Regions from separate parts of the Homo sapiens genome. Here region 2 is linked to region 1. Evidence: fine-mapped expression QTL. A gene starts in region 1. The other region holds a variant in brackets. All regions are shown on one strand. Distances are between the middles of the regions. Region 1 holds the start of SDCCAG8 (SHH signaling and ciliogenesis regulator SDCCAG8). Region 2 overlaps SDCCAG8 (SHH signaling and ciliogenesis regulator SDCCAG8).

The links. PIP is the estimated chance that this variant, and not a neighbour inherited with it, causes the effect.
Region 2: its variant is fine-mapped to the expression of SDCCAG8 in sun-exposed skin (GTEx, PIP above 0.99). The same link has a PIP of 0.9 or more in unexposed skin.

The regions. Positions count from the first base shown.
Region 1 is chr1:243,249,695-243,261,065 of GRCh38, reverse strand. It overlaps SDCCAG8 (SHH signaling and ciliogenesis regulator SDCCAG8), which reads right to left and starts at 5,025. Exons shown (of 18, transcript NM_006642.5): 1 at 4,826-5,025. The coding sequence starts at 4,892. It overlaps CEP170 (centrosomal protein 170), which reads left to right and starts at 5,785. Exons shown (of 20, transcript NM_014812.3): 1 at 5,785-6,026.
Region 2 is chr1:243,482,738-243,494,108 of GRCh38, reverse strand. It overlaps SDCCAG8 (SHH signaling and ciliogenesis regulator SDCCAG8), which reads right to left. Exons shown (of 18, transcript NM_006642.5): 17 at 4,969-5,095. It also overlaps a transcript of AKT3 not described here. Among named protein-coding and RNA genes, the nearest start is that of MIR4677, 140 kb to the right of the region's middle. RefSeq lists enhancers at 3,223-3,746, 3,747-4,270, 9,460-10,018, 11,341-11,371. The variant A/G (reference allele first, on the strand shown) is at 6,385.

The DNA.
Region 1 (11,371 bases):
TCCATCATACCTTTTGATCATTTGCTTGGCACCTAAAGGCAATAATTCTCACATCCAGTCCAAACTTTTCGTTTTACAGTTGAGGAAACGGGAATCCAAGAACAGTGTGTTTCACTTGCCTAAGGTTACCCAGATGGTTGTCAGCAAAGCAAAAGTAAGTGCAGTGACCTGGCTCCCAGCTCCACATTCTCTCCTCTGACCCCACCACACTCTTCCCATAAATTCATCTAAAGGCTGAAACACCAAAATGTTGACAGAAAAAGGTAAAACCAGAATGCAAAATGTATATAGAAAATCATGAGTTCCTGTCATACAAGAAGTTTGTTTCATTTTTCCTTATACTCACCCAACCAAAGGTGGCTAGGAATGAGGTGAATAGGTGAGTCATGTATACAGGTGTTGTTGATAAAATTGTTATCTATTCCCAACGCTGCAGCAAGAGATGAGACATGATTCTGTTATTAAGGCTAAAATACTGCATTTCTAGCAATTTTTCTCCTTTCTGATATCCCCTTACACTCAAGTGTGCAGTACTTAAAATAGAGCCTGGATTGCCTATAATTGTGGCTTTTTTCACCCTTTCTTGGCTATGAAATAGTTCATTTCATACCTCTTGGCTTTATACAACGATGTATTGAATTTAGAGAAGGCGCATGTGCTATCTTGCCCACTTACAAATGTAGTTCTCGGCCATTCTGTGGTTGTTGAATTATAACTACCCATAGAGTAAATGAACACCTAACCTTACTGCCAAGAGACCTCCCAAATCACTTCCAGTTCTAGATTAAATTCTGTGGTTCCCAGGATACCCAGGACACATACACTTTTAACCACACTGGAAACTTTCAGACCATTTACTATGTAGGAATAATACAACAGATCTGTGGGGGCAACAAAGCCTTCCGGTTTTTCTGCCAGAACTCTCGTTTTGAAGAAGAATCATTAAATGTCTCCAATTTCTTGTAAAAGGGCATAGGCGACCCAAAGCAAGAGATATCTTTAGAGAAGTCAAACAGCAAATCCACTGAAAAGTGTAAGGGAATGGATGAAAGGTGAATGTGGAGCTGCTCCAAGATCATCAAGGTCAAAATGAGGCAAGGATCTCATTTTAAAAGCAAGAAAGTAAACGCTGACTCAGTTTTCACATTACAACTTCAAATTATTGATATACCATAATAGTACCAAAATTAAAGAAATGAGGAAAATATCTTTTTTTGTTTGTTTGTTTTGGAGATAGGATTTCACTCTTGTTACCCAGGCTGGAGTGCAGTGGCGCGATCTCAGCACACTGCAACCTCCGCCCACCGCAACCTGCGCCTCCCAGGCTCAAGCAATTCTCCTGCCTCAGCCTCCCGAGTAGCTGGGGTTACACGCGCCTGCCACCACGCCTGGCTCATTTTGTATTTTTAGTAGAGACAGGGTTTCTCCATATTGCTCAGGCTGTTCTCGAACTCCAGACGTCAGGTGATCTGCCCGCCTCGGCCTCCCAAAGTGCTGGGATTACAGGCGTGAGCCACCGCGCCCAACCTCATTTTAAAAACAAGAAAGTAAATGCTGACTCAGTTTTCACATTAGAACTTCAAATTTTGATATACCATAATAGTACCAACATTAAAGAAATAAGGAAATTTGTTTTTGTTTTTGTTTTTGTTGTTTTTTGAGACAGAGTCTCGCTCTGTCGCCCAGGCTGGAGTGCAGTGGCGCGATCTCGGCTCACTGCAAGCTCCACCTCCTGGGTTCATGCCATTCTCCTGCCTCAGCCTCCTGAGTAGCTGGGACTACAGGCGCCCGCCACCACGCCCGGCTAGTTTTTTGTATTTTTTTTTTTAGTACAGACGGGGTTTCACCGTGTTAGCCAGGCTGGTCTCCCATCTCCTGACCTCGTGATCCGCCCGCCCCAGCCTCCCAAAGTGCTGGGATTACAGGCGTGAGCCACCACGCCCGGCCCCAGGAAAAGATCTTTTTAAAATGGAAGTACGATCACGGAAAATAGGGAAAGCATTTTGCATTTTTATGCGGCCACTTCCTGGCTGAATATCAATGAAGGGATATTAGTAGTGACTACATGTGCAGTTATTTACAAGCTAGAGGAAAAACCGGTGAGGAAAGACCAAGACTGTTTATTAGGCTTCCATTAATCATAAACTACGCAAGGCATTTGGGGAAGTAATGGTGGGTAGACAAAACCAAACAAACCAACAAAACCAAAACAAAATAAGACATAGAACTTTAAACTGCATTTTATCTTACTACATAGTAATACAATTCTTAAATTATTAGGCACACTCAAAATAAGGAATTTCCACATAACTCCAGCATTGTTTATTAAGGAACAGAATACTTTACTTTAAAGGGAATTATCAGCCGGGCGCGGTGGCTCACGCCTATAACCCCAGACTTTGGGAGGCTGAAGTGGGCGGATCACTTAAGGTCAGGAGTTCTAGAGCAGCCTGACCAACATGGCGAAACCCAGTCTCTACTAAAAATACAAAAATTAGCCGGGCATGGTGGCGCGTGCCTGTAATCCCAGCTACTTGGGAGGCTGAGGCTGGAGAGTTGCTTGAATCCAGGAGGCAGAGGCTGCAGTGAGCCGAGATGGCACCACTGCATTTCAGCCTGGATGACAGAGTGAGACTCCATCTCTAAATAAATAAATTATACTACTCAAAAATAGCAATTTATATTTGTGAAGAACTTCTGACTGTACTTAAGTTCAGAGTTAATTCTGTTTTGTTTCCTTCCAGAAGCTGTTATATAAGCTAACATACAAAAATAAAAGTGCTACTAAATAAATGATATGTCCTGAAAAACCCATAAACATTTCAGGTTACATTTCCTGATTCACTGTTAAAATTATGAATACGTTTTTTTTTAAGTTGTTTAACTTTTTCTATCCTTCGTATTTGCTCTTGGTGAAATGTTTCCACTACCTTATATTGTTATCACACTAAATTTAAATTTTATTTCAAACTAATTTTAAAATGTATTATCCTTAAATGAAAACCCTTCATTCTGTAATTATTGAAAGCAGTACCACTAGTATTAAACATATTACTATAACATTAATTTAAAATGAACCCCTTTACTGCGTCAAAATGCCTAATGTTAAACAGCCTCCGACAATTATATAAAGACTTAAAATAAGGTCAAAGGAAGAGAAGCATCAGGAAAAACTTTCAATGAAAACAAAAAATTTTTGCCAATCTTAAAAATTACAATTACTCATATCATTGTGCACAGTATTTTTCTTGCTTCCAAATGAAAAGTTAGAAGTGCTTATTTTGTATCTAACAGCTCTTGAAACATCAGTAGGTTGAGGAAGGTGTTCATTAAAACCGATTTTTTTACTCCTGCAGTTTGAATACTGAGAATGTCGACAGTTTGTTAACACAATTGACAGATGTAACAATACATAGTAACCCTTATAAAATCTAGAGTCATGAGAAGATAAACTTTCTAATATTGAAAAACCTTCACTTTGCTTTAAGTAACAAGTATAAATAACAATTAACATTTAATGAGTGCTTGTCTAGTAAGCACTGATCTTTACCCTTACTTTCTATCATAGTAATCTATAATTATTTTTTTTTTTTGTCTTTCTCCCCAACTAATCCAGAAGCTCCATGGGGATAGGAACTTTGTCTTGTTCCTTACTGCATGCCTAGCACCTAGTATGCTTAACACATAGTAGGAGGCACTGACACATAGTAGGCATATTATGCAGAACAACACATGCTTCATAACTTAGTATTCTCAATGTCGCAAACAGTCATGACCTAGAGGCTTATGAAAATGCAACAGAATAGAAAGCAGAGTTTATTACATTTAGTAGAATAAAAATTCTTCAGTGAAACTTATAGTTTATATGTACACATATGTCCCATATAAAATTTATTTCTTACTATAGGTAAACATTTTAAGAAGTCTTAAAATCACTGCTTTATGGGGATTATTTCATTTGCTCCCCACAATAACCCTATGGACAATTCCATAACTTCCATTATAACAGAATCGAAATTTCTAGATGTTATATATGCTGTCCAAGTTGACAGCGCCATCTAAAAGTACAGACATTAAGTCCAACAGAGCTTAAAGGAAAATAAATACAGACATTATTTGTACAGATACTTGCTCATATGGTAATGTGGTAAGAAAATCTAAATTAATAAGGTTTTGATAATAGTAATTATGGCTTGATTAGTAAATACAAACATAGGCTTTGAAGGCAAGCCTGATAATACCTGGCTCTGCAACTAACCAGCTGTGTGGGCTCTGGCCTGTAATTCAACCTCTCTGAGCTTCGCTTTCCCCATGTGTAAAATATTCACACGATTGGTGTAAGCTGCAGATGATTTACTGTATGTAAATAGCCTAAATCAATTAAAAGGGGGCTCTTGTGATTAAAATAATTATTAGTGTTTCCCCCCACTGATCCCATAAATCACATTCAATCCACTGTGCCATAATTTAAATGTGTAAAAACTGTGAATCAGACTTTTATTGGATTAAATAGCAACGTATGGGAACTGAACAAAAATGGCATAGAGCTATCCAAGAGTTTCTGCTGTCGCCGGTTGAGAAAGATGCCAAGTTAAGATCAAGGAGTTGATTGAGGTAACTACGGGAATCTGAGGAAACATCGTTGCTTAACTGTAAAAACTAAATCAAACTATTTCATCCTCCTCAAGACCACAGCAACATCCATCTTGCTCCTCTGTAGCGTGGACGGGGCAGAACCCAGGTGTTAGGAAACGCACCTGGTCTGCTCCCGCCCACTAGGCCCTGGGCACCTCGGGGCTAGGGACAGAGGTTTGGAGCAACTCACCCCGGAGACTCCGTTGATACTGCCCCAGAATCTCCTCCAGGGTAGAGTTCTCCGGGGACTTCGCCATGCACGCACTCTAGGCCCAGAGCTGGGAGTTACGTGGGGAAATGTCCAGCTTTCTCCCTTCCGAGAACAACAGGCCTGTGGCCGGGGAGCGCCCGCCTGCTTCCTGCCGCGGCTGTCACAGGGGAGCCTAGAATCCCGCACAGAGCTCTTGGGGGCTCTTCCCACCCACTGGCCCTCGCTTTGCACGTCGGGAGTTGTAGTCCTCACGTTCAGAACCTGCAAGCTCGACAATCCTCAGGGCCTTCCAGTTACACTACAATTCCCAGAAACCACTGCGCTCCAGGCGCTAGCTTGGACGGTTTGGCTGCCAGAGCCTGCTGCCAAGAGACAGGCTTGCAGGCCCCGCCCTTTTCCTCCAGCCCAGCCTGGTTTAGTCCCGCCTCCATCCCACTCTTCAGCTGCCTGGACCACCCAAATGACAGAAAGGGCTCACTGAAGGCCTTGACGCTTCGAAATTTGCTAATATGCAGCAGTTGATCCCCAGGCTACTCAAGGACGCAGATAGTAAACTCTGAACCCTGCTTCAGTTGCGAGATTTTTTAAAACGGTCGAATAAATCTTCAAGAAATAGAAGCTCTAAATCTTCCAAACAGCCTAGATTGTAAAGGCGGCCGACACTACAACTCCTAGCATGCCCAGCAACCGGACCTTCACTTGGAGTTGGCGCTCTGCCCGCTGGGAACTGTAGTCCTTGTTGGTTGCGGTCCCACCTAACGCCGAGGTCCTCTTCATTGTTCAAGCTGGTCTTTCGGGGCACGCCTGCGCAGTGGGCAAGCTGGAAAAGCGTGTGGGTGAGACCCTCGCACAACCCCTTTTCATTGTCTGTGTGTGGCGCCTGCGCAGTAAGGGATCGTTGGAACTGGGCAGGAGGGGATAGGGTCCGGCTCCTCGCCCTTTCCCGAGGCGCCTGCGCACTAGGCAGTCGGTCTTTGCCGTTACCGCTATGTGTGGGGCGTGTGTGGAATAACGTTATTGCCCAGCGGAGCTGAGGGCCCCGGAGCTCGACCGCAGCGGCAGCGACGACAACAGCGGCGACGACGACGACGACGAGGTGGGGGGAGGACGGCGTGCGAGAGACTCACGGGACGCGACGCGCCCCGCCTCCCCCGTCCGGTCCCTCTCTCCACGGTAAGGGGTAAGTGATGCGATCGGCTGCTCGGTGTAGGCGCCGCAGCCGCAGCCACCGCCGCGGCTGCTTTCCACATCCTGCTCCTCGGGTTTGCGGCGAGGACTCGGGCGCCGCCCGCCGCGGGGCGGGGGTGCGGGGCTGGACCGCGAAGGGGGCGCTTCCCGGGTGCTCCGCGCGGCGCCGCCACCCCCACCCTCTGCCCGCCTGGGACCCGGGGCTTGACGGGACCACCCTTCCCATCCCCCACCCGCCGCCCCCCGGAGCTCCAGTCCTGCGGCCCCCCGGCTTTCCCGAGCCCCTTGCTGCCGCCTCCGCATCCCCTAAGTGCATTGAATCATTTTCAGCTTTCGACTGGCTTTGTGCAGCCCTCCCCCCTCCGCCGTAGCAGTTTGCGAGGGGTGCGGGCGGAGCATTGGAGGGAATGGCTGCGCTGCCGCTGGGGAAGGGATTTTTCCCCCATTGGAGCAGCTCCCCGGGCCAATCCCTTTTGTGTGATTGGTTTTGGGGTGTGAGGCGGTTGGCGAGGTCAGGCGAGCAACCTTTTGGACGCGTTGGGAGGGCGTGGAAGACGCGGTGTCATGCACCCTGCCTGGCGACTGCACCCCGTGGAGGCTCTGGCTCTGTAGTAAACCCGGGGGAGGAGAGAGTGGCTTCCTGTCGGCTTCATTGTCCTAGGATTCAGATGTAGGGTTTTGGTACGTTTCGCTTCCATTTTATGCAAGCGATGAAAAAATAACATTTGCAGCTGCCTAACACAGGGCGGGAAGACGTGGGATTTGTATACTAAGTCACAGAATCTCTGTTCGGTGGTGTTTCGTAGAGTTTTATTTATTTATTTATTTATTTATTTATTTATTTTGAGGAATGTAAGGAAGACAGGGACTATGCCTGCTGGAGTCCAAGCACTGCCAAGGTGATCAATATAAAATTACTAGGTGACGTTGGAGCCTGGGCTAGAGAGGGCCTGACAACGAAGCTGTTGTGTCAGGGAAATGAACAAGCAGAATTGTTTTTTCATTGGGCAGGTAATGCATTTATGTTCCTGAGGGAATGGATACATCTTTCCGTTTATTTTTTAAGCAAGTAAAACAAACAAAACAACTGGCCCAGTACATTTCTGTTACCGAAGTTGTTAACTCATTTTTATTCTCTTAATGAAAATTCAGCCATTTGGGAGGAATTTGGCGAAGCAGATGATACATTTGATTGAAAATGCATATTTTAAAATGATTTAATCCTTAAGCTTACAATGTATGCAGCCGTTTGCTGGCGTTGCTTCTTAAAACACACCAGAAGAGAGAATAAAGCAGGATGGGGAGGAGCAGGTGGAGGAATAATGGGAGAGGAGAGAGTGACATTATGACTATAGTATCTGGATCTTCACTGGTATAACCCTAACTGGGTATGCTTCAGAGACTTAGGAATTCAGCTCTGGAAACAGTACACTGATGAATAGCAACTTATGTATTTTTCTGTTATTATTTTTTAAAAAGTAAAACTAGGGCTGCCTTTAGCTCTTCCTAACTTTGTAGATAACACGGAAGAGCCCAAGTGCACTTGACAGAGGAAGACACTAAAACTCAGAAAGTTAACTGACTTGTCTGCCCAAGCCAGACAGTTAATCGAAGGCAGAGCCAAACGAAACTCAAGGTCCATTCTGCAGAGTGATCTTTCCTGTGTCCCCCTAGCCCTTTTACCTTGTGAAAATGTATGGAAAGCTTCTCTATGTGCTCCCTGAGTAGGCTGTGACTATCACTGAACTTGATTCTCACCGTGATTAATCTAGTTCTTGCCTTTGTGATGTAAAAGTAGTAATCCTCCTAAAATGGACCTTTACTTTCATAAAGTAACTTACTACATGAGGAAAGATGTCCTAACATGTGCTTTTCATAAAAACGAAGTGTTGCAGTGTTTTCCCTACTACCTAATGGTAGCTACTTAACGGTAGGTTTTAATATTATTTCTTGAAAATCAATAGTATTTTATAATAGTATGATGATCAACTCTATAGGCTGTGTTAAAAATAAAATTTCCGCATAACAAGAACCTATGATGTTTATTTTGCCACAGTTAATGAGTTGTAATCATTAATGAGTTATTAGTGATTACTTTTAACTTAAACTAGAATTTACATTTTAAGATATATTAACTTTATGTTTTTTATTGGGTTGATTTTGCCATAAAGTGCTTTTTTCTTCCCTTATAATTTTAATCGTTTAATTTTACGTTGCATTTTAATAGACTTCTTTAAAGGATTTATTATTTATCTTAAATTTCAACTTTAAAAATCTGTAACTAAATTTCAGTATGTGGGATTATATTCAATCATGCTTTAAATGTATTTTACTGGTAAATTTCATTGTGTTCTGAGATTATTTTGTATGGAAATAATCTGCCTGTTCCCTATTTTAACATTAGAATAGTGAAATTTATACTGTAAACCTTAGCATACATTCTGCATATTAATGCTGTTATGGTACTTTTTAAAATTCTGTGCTTCGTGATTTATTTGATTTGTTCCAAGTATCAGTTTCTTGTTCCTTTTTATCTACTGAAAAAAAGAACTAGTTTTATTATTGTATCTGATTGCAATTAGATAATGCTCATCTAGTACTAAATATTGTATATGCTTAAGCTTTTTTGTCAAAATGTTTTTTATTCCACAAAATTGTATTCCTGAAAAATATTTTTTCTATACTAATTAATAGGTAAAGACTTTTCTTTCTTATCTGTCCCAAACACTGGGATGTTAAGCAGTGTACTCTTCAACTAAGTATCTGACAGACAACCTGATATTTAATTGCTAACTAAAGTATCTGTACAGTTGCAAATTATTCTGGAAGTATAACAAAAGAGCAGTTACGTGCCATTTGAAGAATGCTTGGTGAGTAGATAGTATTGACTGGAGCATTCAGTGTTGATCTGTTTCATTAAGAAATGGGATACTTTTGATGGGAAGAAATATCTTTATTTCATTAATAACCAAAATTTCTAATCAGATACCCTAGGTTTTTATTTACTTACTCAAAAATTTCATAAAGGAGTGTTCAGCAGTGAGTTAGCCATTGTGAGAGATAAAAAACATCTGTCTGGTAGTGTGGTTGATTAAACTGGATATATTGTCCAGTTTAGCAGAAATGTTTTAGCCAAAGCCAGTGACATAGCCAATGTGTGTTGCTGTTAAAGCCCACTTTTATATCAAATAAAGGTGGAAAAACAAAACAGCAAAAGCAAAGTTAAAGAAAACCTCATAAAATCTACTTACATACAAACAGGAATTGCAGAAAGTATAGAAGTGGAAAAGAATCCCAAGCATGCATTGTTGAGGTCTGAAAAACAAATGACACATAGCAGAGAACAAGTCATTTTTTAAGTATATCCATAAGTAATAAATGATATAGAAAATATTACCCTTTGAAACACAATATTTATTGAATCGTTGAATAATACCTACCAAATTTTGAACATTTCCTAGGTGCCAGGAAGTTTATGTGTGTGTGGTGTGTGTGTATTTAATTTCTGCAACAAACTTCTAAATTAAGGTATTATTTTTACACATTGAAAAAATTTGAAGCATAGAGTTAGTGAATAACTTTGCCTCTGCGTTACACATTCCTAAGTGATAGGGCCTATAATTGAACCTTTGTCTTTTTGGCTAAAGCCAAAATTCTTTCTACTCATCTTTTTTAGTAAGTTAAAGGGTACCACTTATTTCCTTACTCTGGTTCATAAAATTTTAGAATTCAAGGGAACTTTAGAAGTCAGCTCATACAATGTATCACCCACTACTAATATCTCTGAGATGTTATTGGGTCCAACTTCTCCACAAACCCTTCCCTGGGCATAGGAAAGCCTGTTTAGCTTCCAAAAAGTGTAATAGGAAGATCTCACTTAAATTGAGCTAGTAGCTGCTTTTACTATATAACTTCTTCCCACTGGTTGCAATTCAGTCTTTAGGAGTAAGATGAAGTAAGGTTTTTCTCAATATATTAGCTAGATTTTCTCTTGTCTAAATGTTAGGACACCTCCAACTTCATATGGTTTCCTTTGCCATCCCTCACATCTCTCAGCTGGATTCAATCAGTTTTGTCAGTGCTATTCTTTGTGTTCTGATCTTGTTTCCATATTTAATTCTGCAGTTATGGTCTGAATGCAAAGTGCAGTGAAATTGTCCCTTTCCTTATTTCAAGCCATACACTTGTGTTTAAAGTCTAAAATTGTATCAACTCTTTAACAACAGTCATCTCTGCTAATTCAAAGCAAAAAGCAGAGAGAGAGAGAGAAATGTTACATGGCTTTTCAAGTTATATTTATGTAATTCAAGGTACTATTTTTTGAGATTTTGTTCTCCTTTTCTAATGTTCATAAATGGCCTTTATTAAATGATAGTGTTAGTAACACCTATTAAGTAATGATAGGTTAAGTTTCTTTTGATGTTGGTCATGGGGTTTTGTTTTATTTTAGTGTTCCTGATTAACCAATAAAAAGTTGGCAGCCTTATGTTGATTCTTAATTTGTTTTCTGAAAAATTGGTCTGGAAACCACTGATGTAGTCAACATAAACCAACATTTTTACACTTAGCTAGATTTCTCCCATTGTGTATAAACACACAGGTGATGTTTTTAAACCAGTATTTTACCATTGCCTCCTATTAAATTTCATCTCCGTGAACGTAGCTATAGTTAAAACTTGAGATCTTCTTGAATCATGATTCTGTCATCCAAGGGATTAGCTTTCCTTCCTGGCTTTTTGACATTTATAAATTCAACAAGCCAAACTCTTATGTCTCCATCCTGGCCATATACTTAATATAGCCAAGGACAAAGCCATGCACATTTATAAATAGAATGAATGTTACATAAATAAAAGATGCTGGGAGGAAAGGTGACACAAAAATAATGAAAACCATTCGGATGGGTTTTTTTTGTTTGTTTGTTTTTGGGGCCTTTTTGTTTGTTTTTGTTTTTGTTTTTTTGAGACGGAGTCTTGCTCTCTCGCCAGGCTGGAGTGCAGTGGCTCAGTCTCGGCTTACTACAACGTCTGCCTCCTGGATTCAAGCTATTCCCCTGCCTCGGCCTCCCGAGTAGCCGGGACTACAGGCACGCCCGGCTAATTTTTTGTATTTTAGTAAAGACAGGGTTTCACCATGTTGGCCAGGATGATCTTGATCTCCTGACCTCATGGTCCACTGCCTAGGCCTCTGAAAGTGCTGGGATTACAGGTGTGAGCCATGGCGCCTGGCCTTGTTTTGTTTTTTAAATTAAAGAGAAAACCATTATATCCTCCAGCAGTAAAGGAATTAGATGAAGTTTACAATATACTGGAGGATATGGATAATTCTTTTACGATG
Region 2 (11,371 bases), 230 kb before region 1:
TCTATTCAAGCGCCATCTGTCTTACAGGTAGCTAACTTTGTGGTAGCTCCTAAGTCAGCTGGGCGAGGCCCCCAGGGCTCCTGGAAGGACCACAGTAAATTAGGTGACACCTCCAAGGCCTAACATGGGCAGCCTGCAGCAGCTCCGCCTTGCAGCCAGGCCTCCCTCGGCAGGGAGTCTTGCTCCCTGAGAGCTGTCACTTTTCTAGAACCTCCCTTCTCCCTTTGCTTCCAGTTGCAATGGGCCTTTCCTCCCTTCATCATCTTCTGTGTCTCTGTGTCCCCTGCTTGTTTTCGGCTCTCTTCTATGAGTCCTTTGGTATAATGAGATAATGTCGATGATCTTGAATATAATCACATATGGCTGCTGGATCCATGCACAAGTTTAAATCAAATTAGAAAGTAAATTCACTGCCAAGAATGCTTAAAAGTCATAGGGCCAACTGATTAACCACTGACAAGTCAGTTTCCGACTCTGTTTTCTAAACTGTAAGTGATTCATATGAGGGGACTAAAAGGGAATCACTCCCCAGATTGAACACTGCAGACAGAACCAAGCAGCCTGCTCAGGATACGACGGCTACCAGAAAATGCAAGTCAGCCAAAACCGTATTCATTACCAAATAAGAAAGCAGACACAGAAAATCATCTTGATGGTTGAGACCATCCTCTAAGTGGACAGATAATTTCTGTTTTCCCCTGTCCCAGATGCCATTCTCCCCAAGACTCATGTTTCCTCACCAGCTGGCTCCAACCTTCCTAGCCAGATGTTAGAGCCCCCAGGCTCTGGGCCGCAGACCCCTGACCCTGCTCCAAGCTGTCAGGCCCTGCCCAAACTCCCCTGAGACCCACCACCCTCACCCCGAATCCCCCTCCCCCCACCCCCACCACCAAGGTTTCAGCCTCCCCCAGCCAGGGCCTGCCTCTCAAGAGGGCGAGAGTGCGACTACCCAGCCCAGTCTCAAACAAAAGACAGGCCAGGGTGTGTGTCTGGAGGCCCTGACCCTCCCGGAATACAGAGTGTGGGGAACTGCATCTAGGCAAAGCTGGGCTAGTGCTTCAGTGTCTGTTTCTCCACAAGGACAAGTAAGAGCCATTTCATGACATTTAAAAGCTATTTTCTTGAAGTTGTTTCCGAACCCAGGTGAGGCAGGAGATCAATAATGCCATTATTTGTAGTCACCCTAAACTAAGAACAAGCCAAGAGGCCGGGCAAAGCTCATGCCTGTAATGCCAGCACTTTGGGAGGCCAAGGTGGGCAGATCACCTGAGGTCAGGAGTTCGAGACCAGCCTGGCCTACGTGGAGAAACCCAGTCTCTACTAAAAATACAAAATTAGCCAGGCGTGGTGGCAGGCACCTGTAATCCCAGCTACTTGGGAGGCTGAGGCAGGAGAATTGCTTGAACCCAGGAGGCAGAGGTTGCAGTAGGCCAAGACCATGCCATTGTACTCCAGCCTGGGCGACAAGAACAAAACTCATCAAAAAAAAAAAAAAAAAAAAAAACAGCTGGGCGCAGTGGCTCACGCCTGTAATCCCAGCACTTTAGGAGGCTAAGGTGGGCGGATCATTTGAGGTCAGGAGTTCAAGACCAGCCTGGCCAACATGGCGAAACCCCGTTTCTATTAAAAATACAAAAAAATTAGCTAGGTGTGGTGGTGGGTGCCTGTAATCCCAGCTACTTGGGAGCCTGAGGCAGGAGAATCACTTGAAGCCGGGAGGCGGAGGTTGCAGTGAGCAGAGATTGCACCACTGTACTCCAGTCCGGGTGACGGAGCAAGACTCCGTCTCAAAAAAAAAAAAAAAAAAAAAAAAGCCAAGAAACGAGCCGAGAGCTTGAGCCAGTGCCCTGAGTCCTGCCCACCGCAGACAGCGCCGGGGAGCGGGGAGGATGGGGGTTCTCGTGGCCAAAAGCATCCATGTGGCAGCTACCACTACCAGGGGCTCCCTCTGCCAGCCATGTTGTTGTGAGTGTTTCAGAATTCAAGCAGAAACAATTAGAATAATGAAGCCTGCCAACAGGCTAGACACTTCCTGTTGGAGGCCACAGGCCAGCCTGAGCCCCACCACCAGGGGCAGCGGGGCTCAGGACCCAGGACAGGGAGGGAAGGAAAGGGGTGGACTTTGCTTTGGAACCATTGCCCGACCCATTCTCTTCTGGGTATTAAGTGGACAGAGATGTTTAGAGTTTGACATGCAAAATTAAGTTAAGCTTAACTCATCCAGGCTGAGAAAACGGAAGCCTTTAGTTAAACCATCTCTAACCCGGACATGAGGACAGCTCTAACCCTCAGCTGCCCAAGATCTGGACCCACAGGCCACTCCAGGAAAACAGAGAGGGTGGCTGAGCACTCCGGAGCCCTCAGGCGGCACCGCATCCAAAATACCTGCTCGAACCTACAGCAGCCTCGCCCACATCATGGCTCAGCAGAAGCCTAACTCACAACTCAAGCTGATTCCATGACAAGAAGGCATCGCAGAGGCTGAAGCCCACTGACAGCCCCTACCTAGAGGTGAAGGCCAGGCTTAGCCAGAAAAAGCAGGCTCTGGGTTTAGATATTCAGCAGAGAGCTTGCAAACCTGGATCCCTGCCTCCTCTCTGACCACTAGTATTTGCAACTGAAAGCCAACATTCCCTCTACCAAATTTCTTTTGTCATGTTCATATTAAAATAACTCCAAGTGTAATATTTGAATCTGAAAGGCCGCTTTAGAGATGAGCCAGATGGGCCAGTATCAGATAGCACAGGAATGGGCAAATCATTGCTGTTGCTTCAGGCAAAAGAAGAAAGAAAGACCTGCTAGTTTTTCTGAGGATTTTTTGAGGTTTGGGGTTTTTTTAATGCGTTTTGTGAAAATTTTGCAACTCATTTGGCAATAGCCAGATTTTTAAAGCCCTGGAAGAAGCTTCTAAGCATCGGTGATCCATGTTAAGATCTAAGTGTGCTGTAAAGCAGGCAGATGGGGAGTTAAAAGGCAAAGCCCACGTTCTCCTGATCTAGTCCAGAGCCCAAAGGAAGCTGCCGTGTGCTCCAGCTTCCACGGAAGACTCCCCACAACCTGAGGTCTGACAGAGTTCTTGGCTTTAGAGGCTGAAGATTCACTCATGCCAGGAGTCACGGTCCCTCCCTCCTATGTGACAAGAGCCTAGTCACCTGCCAGGAGACCTAGTGGCTCCAGTGGTCCTGATCTTTGGCTGGCCAGGCCTAAAGCAGGTGCTGCTGGGGCCCTCCCTGGGGACCTGCCCACAGGGCTGGGTTCTGGGCTGGGTCTGGTGGAGGATGAGGGGGTCATCCTGAAAGCAGAGGGGAGGGGAGTGGCACTGGTCCCACAGCTGCTGCTCTGCAGGCCTCTGCCTTCCCTGAACCTCTCCCAGGACCCTCTGAAGATGAGGGAGAAAGGAAACACCCTCACACGTCCTCAGCCTGTGTGCCCAAGGGCCCGTGGGGCATCCCGCCTGCACTCAGCACTCCCAGTAGCCCGTGAAGCCAGGCGTGCACCATGCCCACTGTGCAGAGGAGAAACTGAGGCTGGAAAAAGGCTTAAGTTACTTGTCCGAAGCGGGGGCAGGGGATTCAGCACAGTGACACAACCTGGAATAATTCTCTGTTCTTTCCAGCTCCAAACACTTCAGAGGTTTTCAAAATGTAGTGTCGTCCAGAATCATCCCAACAGCTTGGCAAAATTCAGGTTCCAGGGCCCTGCCATGGAGCGTGCCAGGTGAGGCCTCGCCTCCTAGATTAGCTGTGGCAGTGCGGCTGTGGCTCGGACTTTGAGCGGCCCGCTCCCCCACAGTCCCTGGGAGCAGTCTCAGAAGCATGGGGACAGTAGAGGCATTTCCACCTCCAGGCCTTAGCTCCGTGGCGCCTGGGTGTGCTCATTTACTGTCTGTGAACACATGTTTGGCAGAGGGATTTTGGACCGAGTGGGAAAAGTCAGTACTTACAGGTTCCTTGAGCACAGGGTCATTTTGTGAGGAGAATGAGACTCCTCTTCGTTTTCATTTCCAGATGCATTTTTCATATTAATCATTCCAAGCACTTACTGCCTGAAGTCCCCAGGGCACTCACAGAGCACCTGGGTGCAATCCTAATTAAAGGCGGAGGCCTTGGTCAGCCCACGGACCACCTCATTATCCTAACAAACTGCTTGACGGGGCAAAATGCACAGCCTCTCTGACAGGAAGAGAAGCGATTTAGCAAACGAGGTTTCATACTGTGTTCCAAATTCACCGGGACACTTTCCTTCCTCCCTTTTCCCTGCTGGTGGCCCCGGATCTAACCTGAATGGGGAAAGCCTGGGCTGTGGAGTCAGGCTTAGCCTCCGTTTGCGGTGTCCCTACTTGCCAGCTGTAATGCTTGTCTGGGCCTTAGTTTCCCTATCTAAACCATGAAGACAATAAAGTCAGCATCGCCTGCTTGTTCAAGGGTAAAGGGAATTAATGCATGTTCTGTGTGTAACACTGCCGGGTGCTCTGCAAGCACTCCAGATATTAGCCCAGTAATCAGTCAGCTAATTTAGGATGAGATGCCTGCCTTCCATTCAAGACGACTTTGCTAATTGGGAACACCTCTTTCCTCAACCAATTCAAACCATACACGACCTTCAGAGGCAGCTCAAGGCCACCATCCTCCAAAAAGCCTGTTCTGCCGCCCACGGCCGTCCTCCCGCTTCTCCCTGCTCTCGCACCCTCCGCAGCCTGCACGGCGCAACTTGGCACTCGGTGTGGTTCGTTGATTCGCGGGCCGGGGTCTGTTCACCTGCACGGACTTTAACTCCCTCACCAGGACGGGCCCATGGCTCCGCTTCTCTGGGTCCTGCACTGTGCCCAGCACAGTCTTCGGGACCTCCCTCCCAGCTTACTGCTAACCGATGTGATCCGTGAGAAAGCCGGCCTGTTGAGGTGCATAAAAGATCCACCTGTAGACGCCCGCCCAAGGACTCCCACCTGCGCCGCGTTCTGCACAGTACCTGGGTCCGCAGCCGGTCCACCTCTTCCGACAGGCTCTGCCTCTCCAGGAGAAGCTGGTTCTGCTTGCTGAGGAGCTGCACCAGCTGCTGGGCTGTGGCCTGGCTGTGCTTATCCAGCTGCCTTAGCCTGGAGAAAAATCCACCGCAGAATTAAAGAGGGATAACGTCAGCCTTTCAACAGGCCCAGGGGCTGTGTGTATCTGAGGGAAGCCCCTGATAGGGAACCATGAGCAGGACGCCTAGGGTGACCCTGAGGTGCCAGGCTCTGGCTGGCACTAGGTCCTTGGTACGCACTGTGTGAAGGTAACATTCTAGCAAATGTGCGTGGGAACTGGGAGCCATCTCAGTACACTATCAATTAGAAAACACGCAGATAAGTGGGGTAAGTAGAAGGAAAAGGAAGCTTTGAACTCCCAAGCAGAGGTCAAAGATGAGGGGCCTAAATGCCGCCATTGTTCAGCTGGAAAGGTCTCTGGCAGGCTGAGCAGACGGCCGCCCCGGCTGGGGAAGTGGGTGAGGGCCGTGGAAACACTGAAGTAAGGGTTTTCCATTATTAATCACTCAGTCAATCACGAGCTCCGGCATCGCTGACCAGATGTCTTTAAAGATCCTAAATTTGTCATTCTGCTGATGGGCGCTCCTCTCCAGACTTGCTAATTCACTCAGACCATTATCCTCATCTGTCCACAGTCGGCTTCCTACAGCCAGCAGCACAGTCACCCATGGAACTGTTGGCTTTGGATTAAATGTGGAATTGAACGACTACCCAGAAGTGTTCTGGAAAGAAGCGAGATGTGTGGCCTGCCTCACCGTCCTCACCCATCAAAAGCACCAGCAGGCACGTTAACTCGAATTCTCACAAGGAAAAGGCCATTAAAGCTCAAGGTGCATTTCAAACTCCAGGCTACTGAGCCGAAGGCCTCGTGGGCCGTTCTGCGGACACCGGCCTCTGGCTGCCCTCAGTCCGGGCTCTCCTGGGACTCCGGGCACAACTAAACTTACACGGCCACACGTTTGGGCCTTCGGGTTGGGATAGGTTCCTTTACAAAAAAGGCCGCACATGTGGGCACAGGTACCACTGCCCTCTGGGAAACCCGGCGATGGTCGGTACCTGCCTCCGGCGCTGCTCGGCCCACACCCTCCCATTTCCCCACGGCTCCCCCGGCCCTGCCCCATCGCCCTGCTCAGCCTCCGATGGATTTGGCTAGAGTCTTTGGTCCAGGGGCCCGAGCCCCCAGCCCTGACCCTTCCCCAGAACGCACCATGACTCCCTGTTTTCAGCCACACCCAGCGTTGTCCGGGTCTGCGGGGCGCCCTACCTGTGCCGGGGGAGGCGGGAGCAGCAGCCTAGGACCCCGCCCAGGCAGAGCCGGCACTACGCATGCTCCCAGGAAGCCCCGCCTCCCCGGGCTTGGC[A/G]CCTCCGACTGCCACGCCCACAATTCCGCACCACCGCCCCCCTTGCCTGTCCCGACAAGGGCCTCCTGCTGCCCGCAGGTTCTGGAGAAAGTGTAAGGACTAAGGGACGCCCTGGCGCCTCTTTGGAGCCTGGGCAACAGCCAGGCCCTGCCCTGCCTCCAGGATCAGGCTGGCCTCAACAGAACAGCAAAGATCCTCCATCCAAGTAGGAGTGTTTCCCTGTGTGTGTGATGTATATATATGGTGATGCTCCAACACCCCACCTCATCCTTCCCTCTGATCTTGGAGGAAAAGTAGGTTTCCTTCTGGCAATACCTAAGGCCATCGCTGCTCTGGGAAGCCTCATCGGCCCCTACCCGTCCCCATCACGCTGGGGCTGAGGCAGCCTTTCCTGGGAGCTACCCTCAAAGCCACCCAGTGGATCACAGAAGCTCTCCTGCAAGGCCCCAGGGGGGGGCCCGGGCTGTCCTGAACAGTGAGCGGCCGGGAGAGAGGAGGACGTCCCGGGCCAGCGGACTGGGGAACCTGCCTAGGCCGACCCTCTGACACAGGCAGGCGGCCACCATTCATCTGAGCACCTGCCCTGCTGTGGGGCCCAGGAGTGGGTCCCATTGAAGAGACAGAGATGGTAACAGCTCTTTTCCTTGAGAAGCAGACAATCTGATGCTTCCGTATTTAAATTAGTGGGTGGAAAGCATCATTCGCCCTTGAGCTCTGGAACCCTAAGGTGGCTTTTCCCCTCCGATGAAGGCCTACCTGTGGAGAGAGCTACTGGCTAAGAGCAACTGAGGTAGCCCCGTGGCTTCCTGCTTGCTCGAAAAGAATGGAACAGAAACGTGACAAATGACATCATGACATTGCTGCATGGCAAGAAGGTGCCAGGAAACGTGACAAGTGACACCATGACATGGCTGCATGGCAAGAAGGTGCCACGAGCAGCCATTGTCCATGTGGTCCCTTGCCCTGTGCTTGGATCAAATGAGATGATGGTCCTTTGGACCGATGGGCTCAGTATGTGGTTTTGAACTCCTGAAAAGGGATGGCAGCCCATCCAGGGCAATGGGCAGGGCCAAAGCCGCTCTCACAGCATAAACACCGGTCACGGCCGGCCACCCTGGCTCCACCTTCAGCGATGGGGCCGGTTCTGGCCTAGACCTTCCTCCTATGGAGCCCTCAGAACCTGGAGGAGGTTTAGTCCAGAGTGCTTTGCAACCTGGGGGCCTGGGAAGGCTATAGCGATTACTGGGGTGGGAAGGAGGAAGGAGACACCACCCAGACCCCGCTGAATCAAGTGCCTGGGTGTGAGCCCCACAAGACAGCAGGGGACCAGCTGACCAGGATGTCCACACACAGAAGCACCCCTGCTGTGAGAAGTGAGATCCCTAAGAAGGGGCAGCTCTCCCTTCACAGCTAAGAGCTGAGGATGGATTCCAATTGACTCAATTTTTAAATCAACTTGAACACTCCCAGTATTACAAATATTGGGAAAAGAGATTTTTTTTTTTTTTTTTTTTTTTTTTTTGGAGGCAGAGTTTTGCTCTTGTTGCCCAGGCTGGAGTACAATGGTGCGATCTCGGCTCACCGCAACCTCCGCCTCCGGGTTCAAACAATTCTCCTGTCTCAGCCTCCCGAGTAGAGTAGCTGGAATTACAGGCATGTGCCACAACGGCGGCTAATTTTGTATTTTTAGTAGAGACGGGGTTTCTCCATGTTGGTCAGGCTGGTCTCAAACTCCTGACCTCAAGTGATCCACTCGCCTCAGCCTCCCAAAGTGCTGGGATTACAGGCGTGAGCCACCACGCCCGGCCCGAGATTGATTTTTTTTTTTTTCTTGATACGAAGTCTTGCTTTGTTGCCCAGGCTAGGGTGCAGCGGTGCTATGTCAGCTCACTGCAACCTCCGCCTCCTGGGTTCAAGCGATTCTCCTGCCGTAGCTGGGATTATAGGCTCCTGCCACCGTGCCCAGCTAATTTTTATATTTTTCGTAGAGACAGGGTTTCACCATCTTGGCCAGGCTTGTCTTGAACTCCTGACCTCATGATTCACCCACCTCAGCCTCCCAAAGTGCTGGGATTACAGGCATGAGCCACCGCGCCTGGCTGAGATTTTTTGAAAGTTATTTATTTTTGGAAAAGCCTCCAACCCTGCACAAACCAGCCTACCCTCTGTTAATGGCTATTTCATTGCCATCATTCATTCAGAAGAGATTTCTTGGGGTGTCCTAGACACATAAGCTCTCTTTTCTTTTCCATGGTGGTTACTGCTCTGTCATATTTGTGGTGTTGAGTTCACCTCTTCATCCACCCACAGTTTCAAATAGCACTGTTGATGACTGCTAACACCTTGAGCCCCTGGGCTCACTGCGCCACAATTACCTATGTAAATTTCATTAATAAACTACCTGTTAAATTCAATAATTATCTTAATTAAAAGTTCACTATAGTCCTAGGAGGTACATGCTAGTATCATCCCCATTTCACAGATGAGAAAACAAGCTGAGATGTTAATTAACTTGCACAAAGTCACACAAGTAATCGGTAAAGCTCGGAGTCAAATCGAGCCAGCGCCCAAGTGTCCTTAACCATCGTTAATGGTGGTTAACTCACTGAGTTAATTCACCAAACGAACCAAGCCTTGCTAAACACCTCTCTTCTTCTGCTTCTTCTTCTTTTTTTTTTTTTGAGATGGAGTCTTGCTCTGTTGCCCAGGCTGGAGTGCAGTGGCATAATCTTGGCTCACTGCAACCTCTGCCTCCTGGGTTCAAGAAATTCTCCTGCCTCAGCCTCCCAGGTAGCTGGGACTATAGGCGCGCACCACCACACCTGTCTAATTTTTGTATTTTTAGTAGAGATGGGGTTTCACGATGTTGGCCAGGCTGGTCTCTAACTCCTGACCTCGTGATCTGCCCGCCTTGGCCTCCCAAAGTGCTGGGATTACAGGCGTGAGCCACCGCGCCCGGCCAACACCTCTTAAGGGTCAAGTACTGATTTAAGACCTGGGGGTCCATCAAGAATGACAAATGCTCCCGGCTCTCGGGCGGTTCCCGGCCAATGGAGGAGAGACTCACTTGTAAAAAAAACATGCTCAACTCAAACAGGACACTGAGGCATGAAGAGAAATGGCCAATATTGCAGATGAGAAGCCTGGGAGGGCTTGCGCCTGCTTAGACATGGCTCATGATCGTCGTATGCTGAGCACTTTTATGTCGGGCACTAGACTTACTGTTTATTTAGCACTCACAATTCCATGAGGCAGGAACTAATTATTATGCCACTTTAAGGTTAAGGAAACTGAGGCACAGACAACATGAATCATTGATTCAAAGTCACTCAGCGGGCAAGCTGGGATGGGAAAGGATGAGTGGGTGCTTTTCTGGCCAGGGCCAGGGGCGGGGCCTTCCCACTTCGGGGCCGCACTGCAAAGGCCAATGCGTGTCTGGAAACTGCAAGCTGTGCAGTGTGGCTGCACCAGAGGCTGCAGGCTGCTCAGAGGAAGGCGACGCTGGACTCTGTAGCCAAACCAGCAAATATGGACTTCGTCCTGCAGGCAATGGCAGTGCCATTTAACAGACAGAGGATGGCAGGAGGGATCGGCCTGGCGTAGAAGAGACGTTCTGGGGTCAGGGCGAGTCCGAGGTACCTGTGGAACACGCACCCACCAGGCAGCTATGCAACTTGGGGCTTAGGAAGGGCCGAGCTGGAGCTCTAGCTGGGTGGGCCAAACCTGCTGGGAGGCGAGACCATGAACGTGGGGGCAAGATTTGCCTGGGAAGGGTTGGCAAAGATTGTCAGTGTGGGGAGTTTGTTAAAAATGCAGCTCTCCGGGCCCGCACGACCCCCCTAGCTGAGAAGCTCTTCTGCAGTGAGAGGGAAGGGCTCGCCCCAGGATAGGGGTTAAGGAACCTCCGCCTTCAATGGCTGGCAGTGGACTGGAATCCGGCAAGACACTGAGAGTGGGATCCTGGAGGGAGGAAAACTGGGAGACGGAGGTCCAGGGAGGAGAGGGGTCAGGGCGGAGTGGCCGGTTTGTGGGAAATGCCACCTGGTGGCGGAGCGCCCTGCGGAGCCTCCTGGCTGGGGCAGAAGCCAGATTTCAGGGGCTGGAAGAGAAAGCCTCTTCTGGTGAGGGGCTGGGCTGGCGGGGAGGTCGCGAGACGGGGTGCGGAGGGTGGGAGCCACCGAAGCCGCTGGGGAGGAGGCACTGGAGGAGAGAGGGGCAATCTTCACGGCAGAGGACGGCGGACTTCCCAAGGGAGGAGGGCGCCTTAGGCAGAAGACTGAGACCCTCCCCCCGAGGCAAGAGTGGAGGCGGGAGCAGGGGCGGGTCGCGGAGGGCGCTCGTGCTCAGCAGCCTCCAGGATCCCCCACGTAGAGGGCACCGCTGTTTGCGAGAAAGGCGACGAGGCAGCGGGGTGGCGGCGGGGACGCTGCTGCGGGGACGAGGGCGCCGGCGGGAGGCAGGGACACGCCGCCCAGCCCAGGGGGCGCGCTCCGAGGAAGACCCGGGCGCCCGCCGCCTCCTCCCCGGGCTCCGCAGCCGCCGCCCCGTGCCCTCCACCTGCGACCTTCACCCCCCTCACCGTCGCCACGGGCCTGGAAACCTCTTCCAGCGTCCGTTTCAGGGCGACTGTCGTTTTGAGAGAGTGCAATTTCTTGTTCTGTGTGTCTTGTTTTTAGCCTTTTCTTCTAGGAGGCATTAAGTCATGAACGGGGCGAGGGGGTTTGCCATCATGGGGCCCGCGGAGTCTGTTTAGGCAGCAGCCCCCGCTGCAAGAAGCCCCCCACAGCCTGCGAACCACACACGCCCTCCATGCGGCAGGAAACACAGAATCGTCCGATTTCAGAGCTCAACCCCTAATTCAGACCCTTCTTTCCCGCGCCTTTATCTCATCTTTGCAACAGGCAGGGATTGCATCCAGGGCCCCCAGGATGTGGTTGCTATCTTCACTGTGCTGTCATGGAGCCCTGGGAGCTGTGGCCAGGCCCCA